Homo sapiens: one gene and its partners. The protein of the gene in region 7 purifies or fractionates together with the protein of the main gene of each other region. This does not show direct contact. Each region holds a gene or a part of one and is shown on either strand. Other genes may lie near its edges. The genes, in order: ETFA, ATP2C1, NTPCR, LAPTM4A, ABCB8, ST7L and SLCO4C1.

Evidence for each region.
Region 1: the proteins of SLCO4C1 (region 7) and ETFA purify together in Homo sapiens (affinity purification with mass spectrometry; one large-scale study listed by BioGRID and IntAct). This does not show direct contact.
Region 2: the proteins of SLCO4C1 (region 7) and ATP2C1 purify together in Homo sapiens (affinity purification with mass spectrometry; one large-scale study listed by BioGRID and IntAct). This does not show direct contact.
Region 3: the proteins of SLCO4C1 (region 7) and NTPCR purify together in Homo sapiens (affinity purification with mass spectrometry; one large-scale study listed by BioGRID and IntAct). This does not show direct contact.
Region 4: the proteins of SLCO4C1 (region 7) and LAPTM4A purify together in Homo sapiens (affinity purification with mass spectrometry; one large-scale study listed by BioGRID and IntAct). This does not show direct contact.
Region 5: the proteins of SLCO4C1 (region 7) and ABCB8 purify together in Homo sapiens (affinity purification with mass spectrometry; one large-scale study listed by BioGRID and IntAct). This does not show direct contact.
Region 6: the proteins of SLCO4C1 (region 7) and ST7L purify together in Homo sapiens (affinity purification with mass spectrometry; one large-scale study listed by BioGRID and IntAct). This does not show direct contact.

What each region holds. Positions count from the first base shown.
Region 1 is NC_000015.10:76,304,970-76,308,469, reverse strand, and holds part of ETFA (electron transfer flavoprotein subunit alpha, mitochondrial), read left to right. Parts: intron 1-3,500. UniProt on the Homo sapiens protein: Heterodimeric electron transfer flavoprotein that accepts electrons from several mitochondrial dehydrogenases, including acyl-CoA dehydrogenases, glutaryl-CoA and sarcosine dehydrogenase.
Region 2 is NC_000003.12:130,974,084-130,977,583, reverse strand, and holds part of ATP2C1 (calcium-transporting ATPase type 2C member 1), read right to left. Parts: intron 2,253-3,500; coding exon 2,096-2,252; intron 1-2,095. UniProt on the Homo sapiens protein: ATP-driven pump that supplies the Golgi apparatus with Ca(2+) and Mn(2+) ions, both essential cofactors for processing and trafficking of newly synthesized proteins in the secretory pathway.
Region 3 is NC_000001.11:232,949,111-232,953,410, reverse strand, and holds the start of NTPCR (cancer-related nucleoside-triphosphatase), read right to left. Parts: upstream 2,801-4,300; 5' UTR 2,701-2,800; coding exon 2,667-2,700; exon of another isoform or gene 2,255-2,666; intron 2,084-2,254; exon of another isoform or gene 1,862-2,083; intron 1-1,861. UniProt on the Homo sapiens protein: Has nucleotide phosphatase activity towards ATP, GTP, CTP, TTP and UTP. Hydrolyzes nucleoside diphosphates with lower efficiency.
Region 4 is NC_000002.12:20,034,629-20,038,128, forward strand, and holds part of LAPTM4A (lysosomal-associated transmembrane protein 4A), read right to left. Parts: intron 2,987-3,500; coding exon 2,910-2,986; intron 2,811-2,909; coding exon 2,688-2,810; intron 435-2,687; coding exon 339-434; intron 1-338. UniProt on the Homo sapiens protein: May function in the transport of nucleosides and/or nucleoside derivatives between the cytosol and the lumen of an intracellular membrane-bound compartment.
Region 5 is NC_000007.14:151,038,450-151,041,949, forward strand, and holds part of ABCB8 (mitochondrial potassium channel ATP-binding subunit), read left to right. Parts: intron 1-1,818; coding exon 1,819-1,852; intron 1,853-2,048; coding exon 2,049-2,185; intron 2,186-2,378; coding exon 2,379-2,473; intron 2,474-2,649; coding exon 2,650-2,783; intron 2,784-3,500. UniProt on the Homo sapiens protein: ATP-binding subunit of the mitochondrial ATP-gated potassium channel (mitoK(ATP)). Together with pore-forming subunit CCDC51/MITOK of the mitoK(ATP) channel, mediates ATP-dependent potassium currents across the mitochondrial inner membrane.
Region 6 is NC_000001.11:112,609,142-112,612,641, forward strand, and holds part of ST7L (suppressor of tumorigenicity 7 protein-like), read right to left. Parts: intron 1,863-3,500; coding exon 1,700-1,862; intron 1-1,699.
Region 7 is NC_000005.10:102,251,285-102,254,784, forward strand, and holds part of SLCO4C1 (solute carrier organic anion transporter family member 4C1), read right to left. Parts: intron 1-3,500. UniProt on the Homo sapiens protein: Mediates the transport of organic anions such as steroids (estrone 3-sulfate, chenodeoxycholate, glycocholate) and thyroid hormones (3,3',5-triiodo-L-thyronine (T3), L-thyroxine (T4)), in the kidney.

The DNA of each region.
Region 1 (3,500 bases), on a different chromosome or scaffold from region 7:
GTGTTCCCCGTGCATCATATTAGCAGGTACTTAATGTTGGTTTATCCCATTAGTGGTAATGCTGACTTTAGTTACTTAGCCAAAGTGTTGTTTGCCAGGTTTCTCCACTGTCAAGTTAATACTCCTCCTTTTGTAATTTTTAACTAATTTGTGAGGCGATTCATTGAGACTATGTGACTGTCCTATTTCTCATCAGACTTTTACCCAGTCTTAGCATCTGTTGATGATTTTTGCCTGAGAAATGATTACTATGATGCAAAATGGTGATTTTCTATTTCCATGATACCTTCGTACATTTTTTAGTTATTCTACTATAAGGAAGAACATTATCTTCTTGCATATTTATGGATTTATGGATACATGGATCCTTATTTAGGATAATACATTTCTACCTTATGCTGAAGTTGTCTCATGTTTGTAAAGTGGGGCCCATTCAATCTGACTCCTGTTTGTTTACATATATATGTTTGTGATATCACAAAGTCAAAATAGCTTATCTCAAGTCCCCACTCTTGAAATTAAAAAAAAAATGTTCTGTAGCTAACCATTAATGCATTTAGGAAGAGGATACATTTCCAAAACCATATTTAAAAAAATAAAGTTAGGAATTACAGTTAAAAGATTACCATAAACTGTTAACGATGTGCATATAGTTAACACTTAACACTTAAAAATGGTTAAGATGGGGCCAACCATGGTGGCTGACACCTGTAATCCCAGCACTTTGGGAGGCTGAGGCAGATGGATCACCTGAGCTCAGGAGTTCGAGACCAGCCTGCGCAACATGGCGAAACCCCATCTCTACCAAAAAAAAAATTAGCCAGGCGCCATGGTTCACACCTGTAGTCCCAGCTACTTGGGAGGCTGAGGCACGAGACTTGCTTGAACCTGGGCATTTGAGGCTGCATTGAGCCCAGGTAGCACCACTGCCCTCCGGCCTGGGCAACAGAGTGAGACGCTGTTTCAAAAAAAAAAAAAAAGGTTAAGATGGTAAATTTTATGTATTCTTTTAAACCACTTTGTTAAACTATTAGGATATAAGTTCAATGACTTGCATTTGGTATCTAAGTTCCATTTTTAGTTCTGACTGATTTGTGCCATTGAGTAAAGTCTTTCATCCTTATGTGTGTGGCAATGGTCTTTAAAGTCATCTGTTAACAAAGATAGTTTTTATATCTATAATAAAGAGCTAGAGAACACACCAAGAGGCAAATAGGTAGGCATTTGCAGTTAGTTAATATTCTTGCAGGGATATTAATCCTAATTATTGTTATTTATTAATTTGCTCTTGAAATTGATTTATTGAAGAATAAGAAGATGCAGAAAAATATTTATGTGGTGAGTGAAACAACAATTTCAAGGTCATTTGAGTACTCTTTTTACTGTGTTTATTGTCAGGTGGGAAGGAATATCTATCAGGACTGAGAAGCTATGAAACTGGTGTGAAGGAACATGACACTTTTCTGTCTAGTATTGATGAATAAGATTGAACTCTGTAATTTGCATGCAAATTTTAATTTCTATTGAAAGAAGAAAGAGAGCCAATTTTGGTGTGATTCTAAAAGAAAATTTATTGCATAAGGTGAATTCAGTAAAATTATGATGCCTGCCAATGTGTCTACTAAGAGTCTTGTCCTTTCTTAAAGTGAAGTAAATTGACTGTGTTTTTAGTATTACAGTCAATGTCATATAACATTTCTGGTCATGATTAAAAGCTGCTATATTTTATTACTAAAAGGATTAAAGGAAGTATTTAAAGTACAGAAATATACATTTTAAAAATTACAAAATGTATGTTAAAATAGGGATAGGTGACTTTATATATTATCCTTTTGGGTATGACTCAGAAAGATTTTATAGCTTATTCTTGCTGTTTTTCTTTTTTTAATTAAGAAGCAAAAAAACCGGCTGGGTGCAGTGGCTCATGTCTGTAATCCCAGCACTTTGGGAGGCTGAGGTGGGTGGATCACGAGGTCAGGAGTTTGAGATTAGCCTGACCAACATGGTGAAACCCGTCTCTACTAAAAATACAAAAATTAGCTGGGTGTGGTGGTGCGTGCCTGTAATCCCAGCTACTTAGGAGGCTGAGGCAGGAGAATTGCTTGAACCCAGGAGGCGGAGGTTGGAGTGAGCTGAGATCGCGCCACTGCACTGCAGTCTGGGCGACTGAGCGAGACTCTGTCTCAAAAAAAAAAAAAAAAAGAAGCAAAAAAACCCTCCCCTGCCCTCTATACCCTCATTACACCTAGTTTCCAAAGATGGTTGGGGTGGAGGTATAGGTTACAATCATTCTTACTACTTTAGGTTATGAGTGGGTTTGTAAGGGTAGAGAGTTAGATTCCAGCTTTTTTTCTTCTTCTACCATCTGTGGTACTTTACTATGTGAATATACAGTTCAAGTCACAGCAAGAACTCTAAAAAACTGACAAGCAAAAACAATGTCAAAAATGAGGCTGATGCTGGGCACAGTGTCATGTGCCTGTAGTCACAGCTACTCATGTGGCTGAGGCAGGAGGATCACTTGAGTCCAGGAGACCAGCCTGAGCAACATAGCAAGCAAGACCCAGTCTCAAACAAATACCCACCCCCACAAGAAAAAAAAAAAAACAACTATTGAGGTTGAAAAAGAGAAGGACCAAAATGTGTTCATTGGACTTAGCCATAATGAAGTTTTTGGTGACTTTGGAAAGATTGGATTCAGTGTTGTGAAGGTGAAAGCCAGTTTGCATGAGTAACTGAAAAAATGGAAGGTGAGGTAATAAGAGTTGGTGTCTGTGGAAATTATTTTCAAGAAATTTAGCTTTGAAAGGGTGCAGAGAGGGTGATAACCTCTTTAAATCCTGCCCACAAGAAGTATACTATCTTATAAAGGCCAGTCAACTTTATATGGGTATGTGGCTGGCATGAGAAAGAAAACTTCATATTTTGCTATTTGCAACCAAGTCTAAACAGAGTATAGAGAACTTCTCTAAAAGCATGATGGTGTGTCTGTTTTAGTGATGTAACAGTTTATGTACTGTTTAGTTACCCTTATACATGTTTAGTTGATTACATTATCAATGAGGAAACAGTTGCTTTTTAGTTTTTGATAATTTTAAGAAAAGTTTTCATTTAGTTACTATTCATTGAGTGCCAACTGTGTGCCAGAGAGGTAGATACCAAGTTCACAGTGGAGAACAAGACAGACCTAGTCCCTGCCCTTGTGATGCAAACAGATTAAGGAAGAAACACATTATTTTAAGTGTGGTCATTGTTACAGAACATAGAGGGTGTTTGGGAGAGGTTTAATCTTGTTAGAGGACTGGAAAACACTGAAAGGATATCTGTGAAATTATGTTTGCACACTGAGGTGCCTTAAACTATTGTTACTGAGTGATAAAGTAATAGAGCGGAGGATTTTCTTTCTTTCTTTCTTTCTTTTTTTTTTTTGAGACAGAGTCTCACTGTTGCCCAGGCTGGAGTGCAGTGGCGCCATCTCGACTCACTGCAGCCTCTGCTGC
Region 2 (3,500 bases), on a different chromosome or scaffold from region 7:
TTGTTCCAGAAACTAACAAAAAGAGGGAGCATATATTAGACCTTCAAGACCTCTTTAAGTCCTCTAAATCCATGCCACTTTAAAACCTCTTGCTATGTGCTGCTAAGAGTAGCAAGACTCTGCCCACTTCCCTACCTTTTTTTCTCCACTCTTTTAATGCTTTATTAATAGCTGGAAACAAAGCCAACAAACTGGAAGTGATGACATCCCAGAAGTTCAAAAGAGGAAAGAAATGGGTTCACATTTTGTTCACCAACGGTCTTTTTAAAAAATAAATAAGTGCAACTTAGCAAAAGTAAATTTAAAAAGAAAGGGTCAAAGCCCCAGAATCAGGTGAATCAGGGGAGTAACAGGCCCTCTGCACCACAGTCTTCCCAGGATTGTCTCAGTGGAGCTGCCACTGCCCCTTCCGACACAGGCTTTATCAATCCAAACCCTAATTTTGTGGCAGCAAGGCCTCCCTGCAGTGCCCCTTAAGTCTCTGAAACTCCCACTTGCTCTAACGATTATAATCCTGGGTCAAGCCTTAACTGTCATTCTCTTTCCCTAGCTGAGGTGGAAAGTTGAGGAGTGTAAGGGGAACAAAAGTGTTACCCTGAGCCAGAGTATCTGAGCTTCCAAACAGTTTGGTCTGCCAACTGTTCAGAAGGGAGTGACGGTACAATGTACGAGGGCACCCCCTGTGCTCAATTATCCAGAGTGTCAGTTGGCAATTGTACATTTGGCTTGATAAAAACACATCAAAACCCTGTGGTTTCAGAGATCCTGCTATTCTTAGGTCTGGCCCAGGTAAACCAGAAAAGAGATTCCTCCTGCCCCAGAAATGACGCTGGGAGAAAGAATCTGCCTTGGCTTCAGGGGTCCAGAAAGCTTGAGGACTGAGGTGGGGGGATCCAGGGCATGTTCCAGATTCAGGCCTTTGGGATGAAACCCCAGAAACTCTAGAACCTGTCATCAAAGCCTCTTACATTAAAAGGGGAAAGGGGGAAGGAAAAGTTGTTTTCCTTTAAATTTTTTTCCATCCAAAATATCCATTTGCAAAATAACTTCTCAGCCATGAGTCTCTGCCTCCCATTTCCTTGGAGACAGGGGATGAAGTGTTAAGATGGTCACAATACAGCCCATATCCCAGATGAGATGCACCAGGCTCTGGGGGCAGGGGTATGAGGAGTGATCTTGGTTCAGCAGCACAGAAGGTTCAGAGAGAAGGGCAATGGCAGCAGGCTGGGAGCAATGTTCTCTGCTGGTAAGAGTACCTTTCCAAACTTAGTTTATTTTAAGAACAGAAGCCCTATAAATCCATCAAAATGTTTAAAACTCAAAAAAAGCCTTTGCTTAAGTGAACAACAAATAAAAACATTTTTCACATAACTTGTTTTTCTTCCTCCCAGAAATTGTAGTGCTTAGACTCCTATTTCATTAAAATAATAAAATTAAGGAAGCCAACTCTTCCAACTGCTGTGAGAGACTACATAACTACATATATTCTGCAGAAGCCAGATGACTATCCAGAAGGTAAGAATCAGGTTAGGACACCAACCACCAACCCCCGAGTCTTACACATGACATCCCTAGGAGAGGTGGCCTAATGTGTGTGTGTCCAGCAGACCCTCTCCCCATCACTGCTCAGTCAGCAGCATATAAGTAAGCAGAATCTGGGGACTTCTTTACCTCCCTGGTGAACAGTAACAGATCAAGTTAGCAATCACCTTAAAGGATATATTAGAGGCTTCAGACTCAATTTTTAGAAAAGTATTTTTGTCTTTAAAACAAAGTGATAAAAAGAGAGTAACACCATTTTACCTCGATCCATTTCCCTTCTCATAAGATAAACTTGTTTAAAATAAAATTTCTATCAGCTACTCAGAGACCTCTGGAGATCTAAAAGAACCAGTGATTCATATTTTGCTACATTCTCAAATTTCCATCTTTTGAGGGCCAATTAACCAACTAAAACTTAACACCTCAATACTGGCAAGGGTTCTACAAATCCTGGAAGTGAGTTGGACAGCTCAAATGTGAAGCATGAATTCATCTGCAATTAAAAGAAGGCTCTACCTTTCCACCCCAGGGGACTATGCTGAAATAGCCTTACCTCTGAGTCCCGCTGAGCCCATGCGTGCCTTCTCTTGTTGGTACACATCTCTCTGCTGCTGAGTAAGTGTCAAGGTCTGCCCTTTGCTCTGGTATGTAGTACAGTACTTAATTACTTGTTCGTAAGCACCTTTCATAAAACAAATCTCTGGTCTGTCCTAAGAAGAAAATGTACCAAACACAAGTTTAATTTCAACTTGTACTTACCTGCCATTGGAGTCCAAAATTAAGTGGCATTCATTTCTCATAATTCCCAGAGAAGTTACTCAAGCCTAAGGTTTTGACTGCCACCTGAACTCTGAAGATTAAATATTCCTATAGGGGAGCTTTCTGTATCTTCTATAGAAAACATCTATCCCACCATCCCACACATAAAAGGCAATGCTATACTAAGCCCCAAATTTGGCACTCTGAAATGTGGAAAGAGGCTCACTGCAACATAACAGGAAATGGAAGAGAAATAACAGCTCACAATGGTTCAAGTTCTCTATTAGCTACTATATACGTCTATATCTATCTACCTAAAACACCATTTAATTCTCCCAATCACACTGTATTTATGGGTATTATCGCACTTTTTCTTTTATTTTTTGTCATGGTAAATAATCTTCAAAAGCTTATAATGAAATACTGCAGTTTCCTGTTCAACGCTTCTCACCACTAGTCCTACTCCATGGAAGCAAAATAATTTTAACTCTCTTAGCTGTTTTCTCTGATATTTACCCTCATGTTTTTAACATGTTTATACTGCTACTCCATCAGTTATCAATTTTATACACTGTCTATTGTGACAGATGTTAATTTCCCCATTTCCACTATCTATTCCCCCCCTCCCCATCTTTATGATATAGCTAAAGCAAAATCTGCCAGTATTTTGTTTACAACAAGACTCTTTGCTGCTAAGCCAAGTGTGGTAATGACTATAGCAGTTCACAAATATCCCAGTTCTCCTGGGAGGCAGGAATGTATTTCCCTATTGCCGTCCTCACTCCACAACGGTCAGGTATGACTTGCTTTGGCCAATAAACATGAGTACTTGTGTCACTTCCAAATGGAAATGTAGGTGCCAGTGCACAATTTCCTATTCTTCTACCCCTGCTGTGACAGTGTGTGCTCACATTAAAATGGAGCTTCCATCTGCCTGCATTCCCAAGTAACTACAATGAGCAGATATTTGGGGACAGGGAGGCAGCAGGAGAGCATGATGTTGTTTTCATGGCCTATCCTGATTGATAGCTCAAATAGGATACTTCTTTTCCTGTTCAAGTTTTGTCTTTTATAAAGTTAATAACCACCTCTTTAATTTGTTTTCTGTATACCTATCATTCATTCTTCCTAAACTCTTCAATGTAATATAAAACCCTTCTCATGGTATTTTTTCACAACAACAAAGAAGCAGATAAGCT
Region 3 (4,300 bases), on a different chromosome or scaffold from region 7:
ATCTTCTTTCAGTTAATTTTTTCTTCATTAGTTAAGCTGCTACCCCAATGCTGTCTGGATAAGAAATGACCTCTGCTTCAGGAGACCTCGAGATGATAGCTGTATACCAGGCACAAACAGATCAGAAAGCTCTGGAATTATTTTGGTTCTGGTTCTCCCCTAAGCAGATCCTCAGATAAAGATTCAAGTGCAGGTAGTTTAACCTGGGCAGTGACAACATGATGGACTGGCAGGGAAGAAATTCAGAAAGGGAAGGGAAGGACACCAGCATGAGGTGCACTGTCAAGCAAGTTCCACTGGGGGCAGCTGGAGCTTCAACCCCCTGGGGAATCCTAAGGGACAAGTCAGGGCAAGTGGCTCAGTTATCCTGTCTGAGGAGTGAGAAAGTAGGGAATTTATCAACTAACTTTCACCAATCACAGGTTGAAGGCTAATCCCAGGGCACAGGAATTCCCTGGCTCTTCTGGCCTGCTCTGTTTGCAGGCCAAGTGGGCTCCAGGGACCAGAGAAAGCCCTCCAAGATGAGTCATGGGTACAGACAGTTGGAAATCGGAAAAAATGCTAAGTGCCAGGGGCACTAAGAGGATATGCAACAAAAAGTGACCTCTTTGAGAGGAGACTTTACCTGATGGTCTGAACATATTGAGAAAACAGAAAGAAACTAGGCAAATAAAAACACCTGACAATAACTCCTAATGGGGAAAAAAGTTATGTGTAAAAGGAAAAAAAAAAAATTAGAGGGCATGGTGGTGCATGCCTGTAGTACTAGCTACTAGGGAGGCTGAGGTGGGAAGATGGTTTGAGCCTGGAAGGTGGAGGTTGCAGTGAGCCAAGATTGTGCCACTGCACTCCAACCTGGGCAACAGAGAGAGGCCCTGTCTCAATAAGAAGAGGGAAAAAAAAGATGGGTAAGGTGGCTCACACTTATAATCCCAGTATTTTGGGAGGCCCAGATGGGAGGATCACTTGAGGCTAGGAGTTGGAGATCAGCCTGGGCAACATAACAAGAGACAGGTCTCTACAAAAAAAAAAAAATACCCGGGTGTGGTGGCATGCGCTTGTAGATCCAGCTATTCAGGAGGTTGAAGTGGGAGGATCACTTAAGCCCAGGAGTTTGAGAATGCAGTGAGCTATAACTGTTTCACTGCACTCCAGCCTGGGTGACAAAGCAAGATCCTGTCTCTAAAATAAATAAATAAATGGAAAAGAAATCATAGATTACTATGTGGCTCTGTTGTGATTGTCTTTACATGGCCATAATACTGTAAACATTGACTAATGAAAATTACGCTGTAACTACATTAAGAAGAGAAGGAGAAAAGACAAAGGTGCGTGGGTTTGAGGACAGGTTTAAGAGAGCTACACTGTAGAATTATTTGAGTCTTTCAACTACGTGTAGGTAAGACTTTGATAAAGCAGAAACAAGAACCACCATCAATACAATCACGGTAACAGGACACCTCCATTAATAAAACACACAGTTGTCTTGGGGTCAGCCTGCTGAGTATCAAACTGCATTCCAAGTTTCAAATAAAGGATTGACAAACCAACTTTCAGAAAACAGTTCTTTGCAATACTTAGGAGTGACTTTAGATAGCAGGCATTTCTCAAACCACCCTCCTCCTCCTCACCCCCTGCTCCCCAACTCCCCCATCCAATGCCTGACAAAATCCCAAAGTCTGCAATATTAGCTGTAGCCTTTGCTACTTACAACTAAACATAATCATTAAAATAAAGTGAAAGAGAATTCTAGATCCAGGGTTACAGCCTTTGATATCTGAACCCACACTAAACTTCAAAATTAGATTTGCCTTGCAAAGGAGCTGAAGAAATCACTTTCTCCACTCTTAGCCCATCTATCTTTTTTTAGCCTATCTGATGCAGCCTACCTGTCCTTTTTAGTAATGCTTGATACATGGGTAGCGCCTTGGTTTAAAAGCACCTCCTCCTACACCTCTCATCTGACCTCAACGCTATCCTGCTTCTCAGATGAGAACTCCACAGGCCACAGGGTTGAGGGATCTGACAGACATCAGGAGGGGACAGCGACAGGAACAAGCAAGAGTGTCTGAGAAGGGCTCCTGTAGGTACCAAAGCTTCTCCACCTCTGGCCTCAGCTGTGGAGGGAATTCGTGGGGATGGAGATGGGGATGGGGGTGGGGGGATGAACTTAGATGGGAAAGAAAGGTTACAACTTCAGTTTCGCTGTCCTCCAACTAAAATTTACCATTTTTTTTTTGCACGATCAATGTAGCAAAGACCCACAGTAAGGAAATACCTGTGACTATCAACAGAAATTAGACATCTCCACTTCACATCGCGGTTGCCGCAGATCTCTTGAAATACCATTTGTGCAGACCACAACGTCAACACTACAGTAGGAGTTACCGCTGCCGCTGGCCCCTGCGGTTTCTGCCCTTCATCAAGAAGCCAGTCTAGGACCCCCTCACAAGTGTGTTCTAATCCTTTAGGCCCTGTGTCTTTTAAATCACGTTTTCCGGGAAGGAGTACAAACTCTTCAGACTACCAAGCCCGCCATTTAAATTGGGAACTTCAGAGGCCGGAGCCCTGGAGCCGGAGACCCTCCCCGACAGCACAAGGTCGCCCGCAGCCCGCGCGCCCCCACCCCCTCGACCTCTTGGAGGTGGGGATCCCCTCAGGGTTACCTGGGGGCCCCGTTAGGAACACGTGCCGGGCCATACTGGTGGGCGGGGGTAGGGGTTGCGGTCAGGGGAGCAGTCCAGGTTGGGGTCGCAATTCAGGTCAGGTCCGGACCAGGGTCGCGACTCAGGACCCGCCCACCGCGTGTCGCAGGCCCCGCCCCCAAGCGGTGCTTTGACCGGAAGCACCGCCCTCAAGACCACGCATGCGCCTTCTCCCGAGTCCCCGGTCCGCGCCTGCGCATTCAGCCCTCGGCATTGGCGCCTGTGCCGCGGCAGTTCCTATAGGCGGAGCGGGTTGTACGGTCTCTTAAGTTTCATTCTGGGTTCAGGGCTTTTGTGGGGTATTTGCAGAGATAAGTGCGTGAGAACGTCAGTTATTAAACTATTGCTGCTTCAAGTCAGCGCCATCACCCAAGTTCTGCCCCTTGACTCCGGACCTAGGAGCTGAAATTGCCCAAGGCTGCCGGGACAGCCCTTTTGTAGAAGGTTTGTGACCTGGAAGCATTCCTCAAAGGGGGATGCCATGTTAATGACTCCAACTTTGTTCTCAAACATTCCTGCAGAATAGAATCAGCTGGGGAGTTTTAAACTTGCTCTGATGCCTGGGTTTCACCTGCAGTAATAGGGAGTGTCAGAAGACAAAATTACAAGTTTAGTTTAAAGATCTAATTGGCTTATATTTAGGATCTAGAATCGAGAAATAGATCATTTCATAAAGCAAATAGAGTGTTCCAATGAGTTGTGCAGAGGAGGTTGGCTTTATGGGCAAAAAAAGGCTGAAGAACAAAACAAAGAGTGGGTATTTCAAAGTTACTTTCCTTATAGGGTTAAAACAGATTGGACTTCGTTATTGTACTGACTCAGGTTAACTACAATCTCCTGTTTTTTGGGAAAACGGGCCTGTTTCAAAGTTCAGTTTGGTTACATGGCACTTGGCACAAGTGACTCCATTCTGGTTTGGTCTAGTCTGCTAGGACCTAGTGCAGGAGGTTAGTCCAAAACAATGGCCTCCCATAAATCTTGTTTAACATGAGTAATTGGTCTTGAGCGAGTCTTGAGCACCTGTATTCTTTTTTCTTCTTTCTAAACTCCAGGAAGTTCCTGAAGTGCGCTAGGGTTGAGAACCACTGGTGTAGGCAGGCTTCCCGTCCTCAGCCATGCATAGGACGCCCAGTTTTCCCTCTTTACTTTCACACCAAAGTGTATAAAGATCTCCTCTTGCAAAGAATTAAATAGCTTCTCCGTCTCACTTTACCACTGCAAGTGTTCCGGCCAACGAATGACGTGGCAGTGGCCTTGGGCCACATTTACCTGTAAACTCTTTCAGTCTAACATGTGTACAGCTTAATTTGTAGTCAGTCGTTCCCCATCCTGGCTGAGAAAGCAGTTCAGTGAGTGCTCAACTTAATTGGTTTCTGCCCACACATGGACCTCTTGGTTTCCCTTTAGCCTGAGACATATGCCAGTCCAATGATTATCTAAAAAAACAAAGTTGGATTTGTAAAATATAGCTGTCATCACCATCATTTCTGCAACATTTGTAATGCTCTATTATTATAACAGTATACTATTTATTATCCCAACTGTTAATGTAGGGCCTTCCACCTTGATTTATTTTGCAGTCCATATATGTTGAA
Region 4 (3,500 bases), on a different chromosome or scaffold from region 7:
TGGAGCTTCAATTCAGGTCAACCCACTGTGCTGCAGAAGAAATTCTGGGTTTGTGAACCTTGGGAATTTTAACAGATTTTCAATACAAATCATGAACCCCTTTTCAAAAACATAAAAAGTAGGTCCTTTCACTCAGAGAAGGATCCTGACAGTTACAACCATTCCTTGGAAACACAACAGAAACCATTCCCTAGAAGCTATCTCTGCTCATGTGCCAGAATAAACACTGTCCCCACAAATCCTCAATCTCCTGTGACTTGTAAGGTGAAAGGCAGCAAAAAGGTTTAGATTCACAGTGTCAATCTCAGTCACCCCTAAAGATTTAGTCAGCAACGTACCTTAAAAATGATGAATAAGGCAAAGAACACAAGAACAATGAACAGGAGGCAGCTGGAGTCCAAGGCCAGGAGGTCATCTTTGTAGGGAAAATCAGGCTATTAAAGAAACACACACACATTTACAAGTCAGCCATCGCACTAGCACTTGCTGATAACCTGAAGAGCATCTGAAGAATACAAAGGCACCAAAGTCAAAAGTGATATTTAATAAAAATGTATAAGCAGAATTTAATTCAAAGTGCTTTTAAATTTTAAGCCTTATCACCATTAATGCATGCTAACAATCACTTAGAGTACATTTGATAACCCACAATGCTCCAAAAAGTCTAAATTTAGCTCGTTTTCTCTTTACTTTTCACTATTTTCCATCTTTCTGGCCTTTGGAAAAACACTATCGCCTATATGGCACTGGAGATCAGTCCCTGTGTCACTTGCATCATTAACTCAGGAGATGCTCAGTTCTGTGTAAGTTCTACAGATAAACTGGGCCATTTTAATGCTACAAGGGGAAAATTATTTTTCTAAATGTCAATCGTTTGTCTCAACTCTCATCAGACAGGGGCAAAAATACACCCACTGGTTACAATGTCAGGCAAGACATAAGTTTTACTGCAGACATACTCTGTTCTACTGAAAAGCATCAGCTATATTCATTTAAATACTTAATCAGCCCTGACTGTGTACAAGGCAATGAGCTAAGTTCAGGGAGAAAGGTGTTATAAAAGAAGAATTTCAGATTTAAAAACTAACCAACAGAGGAAATACCTTCCAGTCTGAGGCACTAAGTGAACAAAACAGAGGAGAGAAAACACCAGGGTCTCTAAAAGGAATAATAAATTTTTATCTTCTTTTCTATAAAGCTGATTTAATTTTTTTAAGTTATGCTTGTTTTTAATGGAAATGTCAACAAGAAGGCCTAATTACATTTTCATTTAAAAAGCAACATAAACAGAAATCCCAAAGGACTGAAAAAAATAGAAAAAAAAAATTTTAAGAACACACTACTCCCCAAACCCCAGCCAGGTTGTCTCCTTGGGAAAAAAGCTGTTTTTTTGATCTTCATCTATAAACAAAAAGAAAAACACAGAAGGTGGAGCTCATGAGGGAATGCTATGCTAAGGGTTTTACTCAGAAGGCAGGGAGGCACCACTTGAAATTTCTCCCCCGGAGATGACATGAGCAGAGAGCCACACAGAAGCCGCTGACCGTGGCTGACCAGGCCAACAGCCCTGCCCCTGGCCACCTTTCTCCAGGCTTCCCCACCCTCCCTCTGTGTGCCAGCCACCATGGCCAGCTTCTAGTGCCCTCACTATGCTGCTTCTTGCCTCAAGGTCTCTCTTTTATCTGGAACATTGTCTTCTATACTTTCTCTATCTTAATTCCTGTTCAAACTCCTGAGTACAATTCAAATCTCACTTCCCAGCCCAGGTTTAGTACCCATGTGATATCCACTCCCACAGTAACCTACAATGGTGTATCAGTTAACTGTCAACTTCCTGATTCCTTCACCAGGAAGTAAGCTCCACTGATGCATCTCTATGACCTAGCAGAGTGCCTTGCACATAAGAGCAACCAGCGAATGTTTTCTGAATAAATGAATGATGAATTTGGTGGTGTGGAAAATGGGCTAGGCAGGAAATCTGGTAGTGGGAAGAAAAGTTCTGAAAGACAGCACTTTGGAAATGAACTGAGGATACTCCTGCCAATTTTCATCTACCTAGATCCCATATCTCCTTCTGACCACCTCCACGACGCCCTCCTTGGCCACCCAGCCCAGAGTTTTCCCTGCCCCCCTCCATATGACATTAATCGAAGTTCCTTATTTGCTGCTGCTGTGACAGCTCCCGCTTGTTATCACAGGTAACATCTTCATGTATCTTGACTCCCCAAATATTACAGTTTGCTCGCTAAACTGTAATATTCGCAGTTATCTTTATATCCACACCATTCACCAACAGTGCCTAGCAAAGGGCTAAAAACATAGTAGGCACTGGAATACTTGCTACAGATGTCTGTAAAGACAATAAGCTAGTCACTTAAAGAGTGCCATACACAGTCAAATTACTGTACCTTTGGATGCTCAAAAACAAAAGCTGAACTACTAGTTCCATAATATCCATTTCTAGGAACTCTTAATACTGCATTATCCAAATGGATGGTAAGAAATTACTCTACTTTCATCTTGCCAGTTTTGTCACAGTAGCTAAGAGAGCAGAAATAATTATTTTAAGACACTTTCAAAAGCAAGCGGAGTAGTTAAAAATAATACCTAAGGCTGATTCAGAATTTAAATGTAAACATTTTACTCAAAATGAAAAAAAAATAAGTTTAATGAGCATACACACTTACTAGTTGATCCAGATATTCTTTGATTCTTGGCAAATAGGTGAGAGAACTAATAGCAACCAGGCAACTGAGGACGAAGTCAAAAAGTCGGTAACAGAAGAATGGAATCAGCCAACCCACTTGATACTGGAGAAAAAATAACAACCATAACATTGTATCACATATAGGAAATTACTAAGCTCCCCTAAGGTCAAACTCTAAAAGATGAAAATACAGTATACTTACAGAAATTGCTCCATAAACCAGCATTGAACTGATTATAAACATAAGAACAGAGACGGCAAAAAGAACACAGGCATTATCTAAGAAAACAAAAACAAAAATCTAATTAAGCTACTTACACAACAAAAAGAACAAAACTTCACTTAAAGCTAGCTTTAAAATATTAAATTTAAATATTTTCAAAATTGGCTATAAAAAGATCTAAGGCCAAGAGGGTAAAAAAAAAAAAAAAAAATCAAAGTCTCAGCATGAAGTAAGGAACCTTGAGACATTCACACAAAGCACTTATTTGTTAAATCGCTCCAACGACTCACTGACATGGGTGTAGGATGGCACATGAACCACATTCTCTGCTAGAGAAACAGGTCCCTGTGCCCTTATGAGCCCAGGAATCTGAAGATGTGCAAACAGATCATTATAATCCAATGTGTCAAGTGCTACAACAGAGGCAGAAACAATTTGCTTTGCCTGAAGCATCAGGAAAAAATATGAAGAAATGACACAAGATGGGTCTTATGAGTAGGGTTTAGCTGGAAGGAATGGCTGGCAATTGCTTAAAAGACAAGTGTATTAAACTCAGAATGCTACATACAT
Region 5 (3,500 bases), on a different chromosome or scaffold from region 7:
GCAGTGACCTGAGATTGCGCCACTGCACCCCAGCCTGGCAACAGCAAGACTCCGTCTCAAAAAAAAAAAAAGAAGCCCAGTGGCTCCCTTAATAAAATCACCCCTTAGCCCTCTGTGGTGGGCAGTGGTGGGACAGTCTCCCTGTGGGGAGGGTGGCTGCACTGTCCAGCCCCAACCCTCCCGCTTCGGGACCCCCACTTCCCCTTTAGGGCCTGAGACTCTGACTTTACCTCCCACCGTACTGCTTGGCCATCCAGCAGCTTTATGACACACACAAGAACCCCCAGGGGCTTGTCTGTGCTGTTTCGCTGGCTGCTCCCACAGCCACAGGCCCTAGACCCATCCTCTTGGAGGTCCTTCTAGCGCTGCCTATGTGGAGATTCTTCCCCACTCATCTTGGGGGTTTGGATTTGTTGCATAAAGCAGCTGATGTGTTTCCCACAGGGTCCTGCCAGCTAAGCCAAGGGCCCATGCATTGGCACTGGGGTCTAGCAGAGAGAGGGGAGCAGGATGGCCCGGCCTACCTCAGGCAGCCTAACCTATGAGCCCATCCTGAGTACTCCTGATGGAGATGGGGAGGTGCCCAGACAGACAGCAAGTGGGGCCCAGCCGCCTCATCAGAATCAGGGCCAGGCTCCACCTGGGAACAGGCCCGTAGCCTACAGCCCACGGCCCCTGAGAGCAGGGTCATCACACTCCAATGAGTCATGTGCATTTTGAATTTCAGTTGCTGCCCAGCCCCTTTGCCAGGCCCTAATGTCTTCCAGATCTCTGGTGGAGAATGTGCCCCTGCTCATCAACAGATAGCTGGCTGGGCTGGCTCCTTCCTGCCTGGTGCCTCCCCCGGCTGCCTTTAGCAAGTGCTGACTGCACTGAGTCCACTGGGACCTTTTCCTTTTGGGTTTCGAGGCTCCTCCCACTCACCCCCACCCTAGTGCTGGAAGAAGTGAGTCTGCAGCTGAAGGGTTGCTGGGGAGTCAGTCTTTCCTCTTACTTAGGAGGGGACCAGGCATACACACACTGTCACAGGTCAGCCAGGCCAGTCAGGGACCAGTGACTCACCTTCCTCCTCAGCCTCCTGGCAGCCGGCCAGCCCTACCCCGGCCCTGCCGGGACGAAGGAGGCCACCCACTGTCTAGACAGATAACACTGTGGGTATACTTATCTGCAGGGCAAGCTCATGAGAAAAATTTTTTTCAGGGAATTTTGTTTTGGGGTCTCCTGAGAGTTCCCCTGTGGCCCAGTGTCTTCTGTTTTCTTCTTTCTCCAAAAAGATTTAACATCACTTCTTCCACCTAAATGTCTGCCAAAGTCATTGCTTCCCCAAGAGTCTGCAGCATTAGATCTGCTCTCCCCTTCTAAGCCACGCACCCTTGATCTCTGTTCATGGTGGCGGCCTCCGCATCCTCAGGGCCGAGCAGGGAGTCCGTGGGTCAGCTGGGCTCCCTTCCTCGTGGGCTGATATCACCGCTGCATGTGTGCACAGGCCTCACCCTGCAGACCACAGGCCAGGGCACTGGAGGACACCCACAGAGGCCTGTGCCTTCACTTCCATTTCCTCGTGGAGCACCCCCTCCCAGGGGCTTGGGCTGAGCTGAGGGACAGCTGTCATCCTCATCTGGCCAAGGAGGGAGCCAGGGCTCAGCGATCTGGTGTTGCTACGTCCCAGGGCTCTACGCCCCCATGGTGCAGGAGCAGTCTCTGCATTTGGCCACAGGCCACCTGCTTCCTTGCTCCCCCGCCCCACCGTGGCTTCCTTCCCCTCCTCTGGCTCTTCTTGTTCCCATCTATTCCACCCCTCTCTCCTTTTTCTGACAGGTCCATGGCCAACCTCTCTGTCCTGTTTGGGCAGGTGAGTGGCCGGTAGGGTGGAGGGCCTGGGGTGTGGAGTTTGTGCCGTGTGTGCCGCTGTGGGAGCTGCCTATTGACTGGGTGTGGGCGGGCAGAGGAGCTGGGGAGACCCCAGCCCAGAGCCATGGCCACTCCCTGGAGATGCTGTTGTCACCCCTACTCCTGCCTCCCTGCGGACTTTGGATCCCCTCCCACAGGTGGTCCGGGGGCTGAGTGCAGGTGCCCGGGTCTTTGAGTACATGGCCCTGAACCCCTGCATCCCACTGTCTGGGGGCTGCTGCGTCCCCAAAGAGCAGCTGCGTGGCTCCGTTACATTTCAGAACGTCTGCTTCAGGTCAGCACGGGTGAGCAGGCGTGGGGATGGGTCCCTGGGCCGGGGATGAGGCGAGTGGATTCGGGGGTGGAGGTCTGGACTAATGTCCCCCATAAACAGGCCCTCTCAGAGGGCTACAGGGAGACTTCAGGAGGGACCCGGGCAACAAGGGCTGGGAGCCTGGTCTGACTGGGGGTCTCTCGGCTCCTCCCAGCTACCCCTGCCGCCCCGGCTTCGAGGTGCTGAAAGACTTCACCCTGACGCTGCCCCCTGGCAAGATCGTGGCCCTCGTGGGCCAGTCTGGCGGAGGTAAGGGGAGCCCACCACCTCTTCACCCTCTGACTCTTCTCTAGCAGCCACTCAGAGCAAGGCCGGGAGCAGTGAGCCCCCGGTGGGGTCCCTTCCTCCACTGCCACAAGGGGCCTTCTTTCCTGGGACAATCCCTAGAATCCCTGGCCTCCCTCCCTCTCAACCCAATTCCCCAGGAAAGACCACCGTGGCTTCCCTGCTGGAGCGCTTCTACGACCCCACGGCAGGCGTGGTGATGCTGGATGGGCGGGACCTGCGCACCCTTGACCCCTCCTGGCTCCGGGGCCAGGTTGTCGGCTTCATCAGCCAGGTGCGGGGCCACATGGGCAGCCCTTGGCTCCCACTGCCCGTCCTCCCCTGGGCCCTGCCCCCTTAGTCCTCAGGTGCCTTTTCTTTCTTTCCCACCCTCATCCTTGCTGCTCTCGGGAGACCCTGGCCGTCTTCACATGTCCTCAGCTGTTGTCTGGGTGAGGCATCCCTGTCGTGGGAGCAGCCACAGCTCTGCCTGGTCTCCCAGAGCAGGGACGCTTTGTCCGCATTTACAGCAGTCTACACAGATGGGGAATCCCTCAGATTCTCTGCAAATCCCATAGCATCCAGGTCTAGAGAAGCCTATAGTGGAGGTGCTGAGCTGCAGCCGTTCTCCCTCTGCTTGAGGTGGCACTGCCCAGCGAGGGTCCACCCTTCCCTTTGAGGGCCGTGAATGAAGAGGGCATGCCTGCTGTCCGCCAGGGAGAGTGCCTGTGCAGAAGAAAGGCAAATGCAAGCCCCCAACTCCCAGCGCCCTGCCCTGCCAGCTCCTCCCACTCCCACTCCTGGGGAGGGATTCTGGGCCCTTGGTAGGAAGTCGAACTGTCCTTCCCTTTTGGGGGCCACTCTGCATCCTCACTTCACCTCTGACTTTGAACGTCTGATTCTTCAAGAGATCCTAATCTAATCCACCAGATAGACTGTCCCATTGTGTATGGTGGCCCCTCCAGTTTCTGGGGCAAAGAGAATGTTTCTATGGACTCTGTCTCCATAACCC
Region 6 (3,500 bases), on a different chromosome or scaffold from region 7:
CATACTGAGACCTCATCTCTATTAAAATAATAATAATAATAATTGTATTTGGCTTTGTAAATTTTCCTTTCCTAATTATGTATCATTAAAAATATTTGCTTTCTAGCTGGCCAGGCTCAGTGGCTCACGCCTGTAATCCTAGCACTTTGGGAAGCCGAGGCAGACAGATCACCTGAGGTCGGGAGTTCAAGACCAGCCTGGCCAACATGGTGAAACCCATCTCTACTAAAAATACAAAAATTAGCTGGGTGCAGTGGTACATGCCTGTTATTTCAGCTACTTGGGAGGCTGAGGAAGGAGAATCACTTGAACCCAGGAGGCAGAGGTCGCAGTGAGCTGAGATTGCACCACTGCACTCTAGCCTGGGCTACAGAGACTTCGTCTCAAAAAAAAAAAAAAATGCTGGGTATGGTGGCTCACGCCTGTAATCCCAGAACTTTAGGAGGCCAAGGTGGGCAGATCATGAGGTCAAGAGATTGAGACCATCCTGGCCAATATGGTGAAACCCCATCTCTACTAAAAATACAAAATATTAGCCAGGCATGGTGGTGCATGCCTGTAGTCCCAGCTACTCGGGAGGCTGAGGCAGGAGAATCATTTGAACTTGGAAGGAGAGGTTGCAGTGAGCCGAGATCGCACCACTGCACTCCAGCCTGGCAACAGACAAGATTCTGTCTCTAACTAAATAAATAAATAAATTTGCGATTACTCGACACAAATAGAGGAACAGTCTACAATAAAAGTATGACAATGGAATATCCATCCATGAAGAGCTGAGACTTTGATGCCTTTTTAAGTATACTGAAAAAAATTTTTTTTCCTACTTTTCTCTCTTGGCAGAGATGGCTGTTTCTGTTCTCTCCTTTATTAGTCATAAGATTCCCTGATTTGCTGGGCGTATATATATATATACACTGAGAAAATGATGAAAATTTCTAGCCTTCCTTATAGCTAGTAATGGCCATATGAAACAGACCTGACCAGTAGGAAGTAAGGTGAAATAGTATGTAACATTTCTGAGAATAGTCCTTGGCTTCTGTGGGGTGGAGTAGAGGGAAGTAGTGACCTTACCCCGGATTTCTTTCCTTCCTACTGATTGGAATGTGGATATGATGGCTGAAGCAAGAGCAACAGTCTTACACGACAAAGTAAAAACTACATTTGGAGATGGCAGGCTAACAAAATAGAAGGGGTCTGGGTATCTGATGATTATTGTTTTCCATACTAGCCATGGACTAACTATATTAACATGAAAGACAAATTTCTGTGTCTTGGTCCATTTGGACTGCTATAACAAAATATCACAAACTGCGTAGATTATAAACAGTATAAATTTATTTTTAACAGTTCTGGAGGCTGGGAAGTCTATGACCAAGGTACCAACAAATTTGGTGTCTGGTGAGGGTCTGCTTTCTGGTTCACAGACGGCGCCTTCTCGTGGTGTCCTCCCACGGTAGAAGTGGCAAGCAGCTCTCTGGGGTCTCTCATAAGGGCATTCATCACATCCCTGAGGGCACTGCCCTCATGACCTGATCACCTCCCAAAGACCCTACCTCGTAACATCACATTGGTGATTAGAATTTTGGGGGAAACACAAACATGCACACCACAGCACTCTGCTGTTTTGAGTTTTCTATCTCCCAGAGCCAAACTCAATCTTAAATACACAGCTCTGAAAACACATTAGAAAAGTAGTCACCTGACAAATTCTGTCTGCTGGTTTCATTTTCTCTGTTCCTCGAAGGAGAACCTGGTTCTGAAATGCTGCTCTCTGTTCCTCCCATCAGTGGTTGCAAATGGCTTACAGATACTTGCTCAATAAAAGATGTGCCATGCTTATGGAAGTACCACCATTCAAATATCTATGACAAACAGAAAATATCCTGCACTTAGAATCGATCAGCAGATACATGAGCTCAAATTAAAACATTCTCTCAAGATGTCCTGTTCAATTCAGCATTTTAAATGCACTCTCCTTTCAAAAAGAAAAAAACATACAAACACAAGATTCACCAATAACATGTCACGTAAAAGTGAAATACATTTTTTATAGTTCCGTCATAAAATTTAGACAAGCTTAAGCAAAACTAGGCATATGTAATAAAGCATTAAAAACAGAAAGAAGCATTTTAATCTATAAGTAATTTAACTCTGTTAAGTTACATTGTCATTTTATTCTATCTGCAGCATAAACAGTTTTCAAATAATAAGCATAGTGGATGAACAGACTAGACTAGCATCAGCATGCCCATGTTTTAACTCCCAAATCAGTCATTTATTAGCTGTGTGCTGTGGGCAAGTCACTTAATCTCTTAATATCTCAGAGCCTCAGCTAAATGTGGTTAACAAGAATTATAAGAAAGTGCTTTCTGAAGCAAAAAGTACTACTCTGGTATTTGGCAAAATTATTAATAAAGGTTAAGGTCAAGTTGATTCCCATATTGAACCATTTAAAAATCAGGATATTCATTTCTTTCTATTTCCATGGTTTATCACTGATATAAAAAGAGAAACCAGGCCAGACACGGTGGTTCACGTCTGTAATTCCAGCACTTTGGGAGGCCAAGAAGTCCCAAAAGAGGGATCCTCAAGAAGAATCGCTTGAGCCCAAGAATTCTAGACCAGCCTGGACAAAACAGTGAGACCTCATCTCTACAGAAAAATATAAAAATAAAATATTAGCTGGGTGAGGTGGTGCATGCCTGCAGTTCCAGCTACTCAGGAAGTTGAAGTGGGAGGATCTCTTGAGCCCAAGGAGGTCAAGGCTGCAGTGAGCTGAGATTGCACCACTGCCCTCCAGCCTGGGCAATAGAGTGAGACCCTGTCTCAAAAAAAAAAAAAAAAAAAAAAAAAGTCACCTGACAGACTAGTCTTCTGCCAAATGTAGTGGATACATGTATTACTTTAAAGAATAAACAAAGCATATGCACAACTAAGAGATTTTAATCTTTTTATTTCCTTTTTTTAAAATGTTTTGAGATAGGATCCCACTGTCACCAGGCTGGAGTACAGTGGCATGATCACAGCTCACTGAAACCTTGACCTCCCTGGGCTCAGGTGATCATCCCACCTCAGCCTCCCGTGTAGCTAGGACTACAGGCATGTGCCACCATGCCCAGCTAATTTTTATGTTTTTTGTAGGGACAAGGTTTTGCCATGTTGCCCAGGCTGGTCTCAAATTCCTGGGCTTAAGCGCTCTGCCCTCCTTGGCCTCACAAAGTGCTAGGATTATGGGTGTAAGCTACCATGACCGGCCAGATTATAATATTTTTGAAAACTATTTTACTATGACCACAAACAGAACCCATCACAAAAAAATCAGCATTTTCAAATCTGTAGGAATGTTATTTTTTTGCTTCAGTAAATAACAGAACAAATATGCTACATAGGTGCCAAAAGTATAGTCATGTTGGGGCCCGCTGACTACATGCCACAACGTTTATAGGAAAGTGTGAGAAAATCATGGTGCAGCATTTTTTCTATCATGTCACTAATGTTTT
Region 7 (3,500 bases):
TACAGAGTATGAATTTGAAGAAAGGGGACCAGTTACAATACCCTAGACAGTAGGTGATGACAATATAAAGGAGAGCTAAGATAGAACATATGATGATAGGAAGCAGATTAAAGAAAACTTTTGGATGTAGAATCAGTAAGATTTGGTGATGGATTGGTTGAAGATGACTCTTCCTGTTAAAAATGGAAGAGGCTACTCAAGAGGCTTAGGCAGAAAAATCACTTGAGCCCAGGAGTTTGAGGCTGCAGTGAGTTATGATTGTGCCACTGCACTCTAGCCTGGGCAACAGAGTGAGATCCCATTTCCAAAAAAAAAAAGAATGGAAGAGTCAAAGGTGACTCCTAATATCTAACCTGGTGTTTAGGTACAGGAGAACAATGATGAGTATGGTATTGTAAGTAATAAGATTAAGAGTATCTCCAATTTGGTGGAGAAGAAATCTTGAATGGAGCTAGATTTCTTAATAACCATTTGGACATAGATGTAGCTGAAACCACGAACATTTATAAGATCAGTCATATAGTGTATGGAATGAGAAGGGTACTGAAGTCTTGGGAGTCCACTTATTTAATAAAGACACAATGGACACCAATTATGTGCTAGACTACTCAAGGTGGTAGAATTATATTTAAAAGAAAGAAGGAGCTAGAGTTAGAACTAGAAATGACAGATTGAGGGAGAGAGAGAAATGGATAGAAGGAACGGAATGAGGGAGTGAAGGAGAAAAGGAGAAAGAGGGAGGGAGAGGGAAGAAGGAAGGGAGAAAAGCGAGAAGGAAGGGAAACGGGGAAAGAAGGAAGGGAAGAAGGGAGGAAGGGAAGGGAAAGAGATAAGGAAAGGGAAAGAAGGAAAAGGAAGGGAAGAAGGGAGGGAGGAGGAGAAGCAAACCTCTGCCACCATGAAGCTAACTTCCTTGCATCAGGGGTCAAACACAGTAAATGAGTGATTTCTGTAAGTATTAGAAGATAACCGACACTGTGTTGGAAAATGATGACATACAAAGTAGGCGGAGAACAAGAAAGTCATGAAGAAAACAAATTAAAGAGAAAAAAATGACTAAATCAGTAGGGAGTCTGAAGGAAAGAGTGATCAAGATAGTAATCTGCCACTCTGCCTGCAGTCTCATCTTATTCAAATCTATTCCACAGATGCTGCCAGATTTATCTTTATCAAGTATGATGATAATATCAAGGGTTGATCACATTCACAAAAGCCATCACCAGAGTGTCCGCTCACAGAGCTCATAACATAGATGCAGAAATAAGACAACCAGAGAAAAACCATCCCTGCAACTCTAGAAATAGCCTTTACACAGCAATTTTTAAAGTTCCCAATATATAATTCTCATGTTATTGATAAATAATTACTGAGATCATACAAAGTATAAGACAGCATGATGCAAATTATAGTATTAACAAAGAAATATAGCTTATATTCCTTAATATCAAGGGGTGGTCACATTAGTCTACATATTTTACAAAGGTTTACTTCTTGAGGTAACTAGAAAGCTATTAGTAGAAAAACGGCAGATGCTTGTGAAGTTTATTAAATTTTCTTAGTGTATACATATTTAAAAATATTAAAATATCCTATTTTGAAATGTTTAATAGATTTAAAATATAATAAAATAAATGTGCATATATAAACATCTTTATGTTTGCCACAAGTAGAATTCAAACATTAATTTCTTAAATACAAAGTATTCTATAATTATGCCTCTATAACAGGCTAAAATTTCCCTAAAACTATTGCAAAATATTGATATGCCTCTTTAAGATGCTATTTCATATAATCAATAAAATTCTAGCTAAAGATCAGATACAGAAAAAAATACTGTGTGTATACACTATGGTATTTCTATATTCTATGAGGTTTTAAGTAAAACATGAATCATCATTACCACCACTGATCACCAAAATAAGACTCAAAGTTCCTATAGATTGTCAAGGCAACAAAAGAGCAGTGGGGAACAGTGGGAAAATAAACAGTATTCATGCAATCGAATTTAGTATTGTGCCCAATTAAAGATTTAATAATAAATTACTTTAAAATATTATTGAAAAATATCCTGACCATTATCTCAAGCAAATTAACACAGGCACAGAAAACCAAATACCACATGCTCTCACTTAAAAGTGGGAGCTAATCACTGAGTACTTATGGAATAAAGATGGCAACAATAGACACTGCAGATACAAGAGGGAGAAGAGAAGAAGTGGGGCAAGTGTTGAAAAACTATTAGCCAGGCACAGTGGCTCGCACCTGTAATCCCAGCACTTTGGGAGGCCGAGGCGGGTGGATCACCTGAGGTCAGGAGTTCAAGATCAGCCTGGTCAACATGGTGAAACCCTGTCTCTACTAAAAATACAAAATTTAGCTGCGTGTGATGGCACGCCTATAATCCCAGCTACTCGGGAGGCTGAGGCAGGAGAATTGCTTGAACCCAGGAGGCAGAGGTTGCAGTGAGCTGAGATCGTGCCACTACACTCCAGCCTGGGCGACCAAAGGAGACTCTATCTCAAAAAAAAAAAAAGAAAAGAAAAACTATTCAGTACTATGCTTGGTACCTGGGTAACAGAATCAATCATACCCCAAACCTCAGCATCATATAATATACCCAGGTAACAAATCTGCACATGTACCCCCTGAATCTAAAAGTTGAAATTATTTATATATATATATATCCCCTGATCTTACATTTTTTGGAAATGCTGTTATATTAAACAGGGACTTTCAAAGAACATATCAATGAACCTAATTCATTAATTCATGGATGCAAAATCTCTTTTTACCCATCTGTGCTTACCATGGCAAAAGTCAAAGATTCTTTGCACCCCTCTACTAGAAACCCTACATCCTCAGAACCTCTTCTGTCTCTCACTCCCTGAAAAGGTATTTCTTGAGCTTCTTAGTCTGTTCTTTCCATAGACAGGCTTACCTAGCTTTACTTTACTTTGTTTTATTGTACTTTGCAAATCTTGTGTTTTTTACAAACTGAAGGTTAGTGGCAACCTAGTGATAGTGATAGTATTCAGTAAGTCTATCAAGTGCCATTTTTCCCAGAGTACACGATCAGTTTATGTCTATTTCATATTTTGGTAACCTTGCAAAATTTCAAACTTTTTCATTATCATTTCTGTTATGGTGATCAGTGATTTTTGATGTACTATAATAATTGTTTCAGGACACCATGAACCATGCCCCTTTAAGAAGTAAAATTTAATCAATGAATGATGTGTGTGTTCTGACTGCTCATTATTGTCTTATTTTAAGAAGCTGCCACAACTACCCCAACCTTTGGCAACCACCACCCTGGTCAGTCAGCAGCCATCAACACTGAGGCAAGACTCTCTACCAGCAAAAAAATTACAACTTGCTGAAGGCTCAGATGATTGTCAGCATGTTTCAGCAATAAATAATTTTTAAATTAAGGTATATACATTGTACATTGCTTTTCTAGAAATAAGGTTATTGTATATGTAATAGACTACAGTATAGGG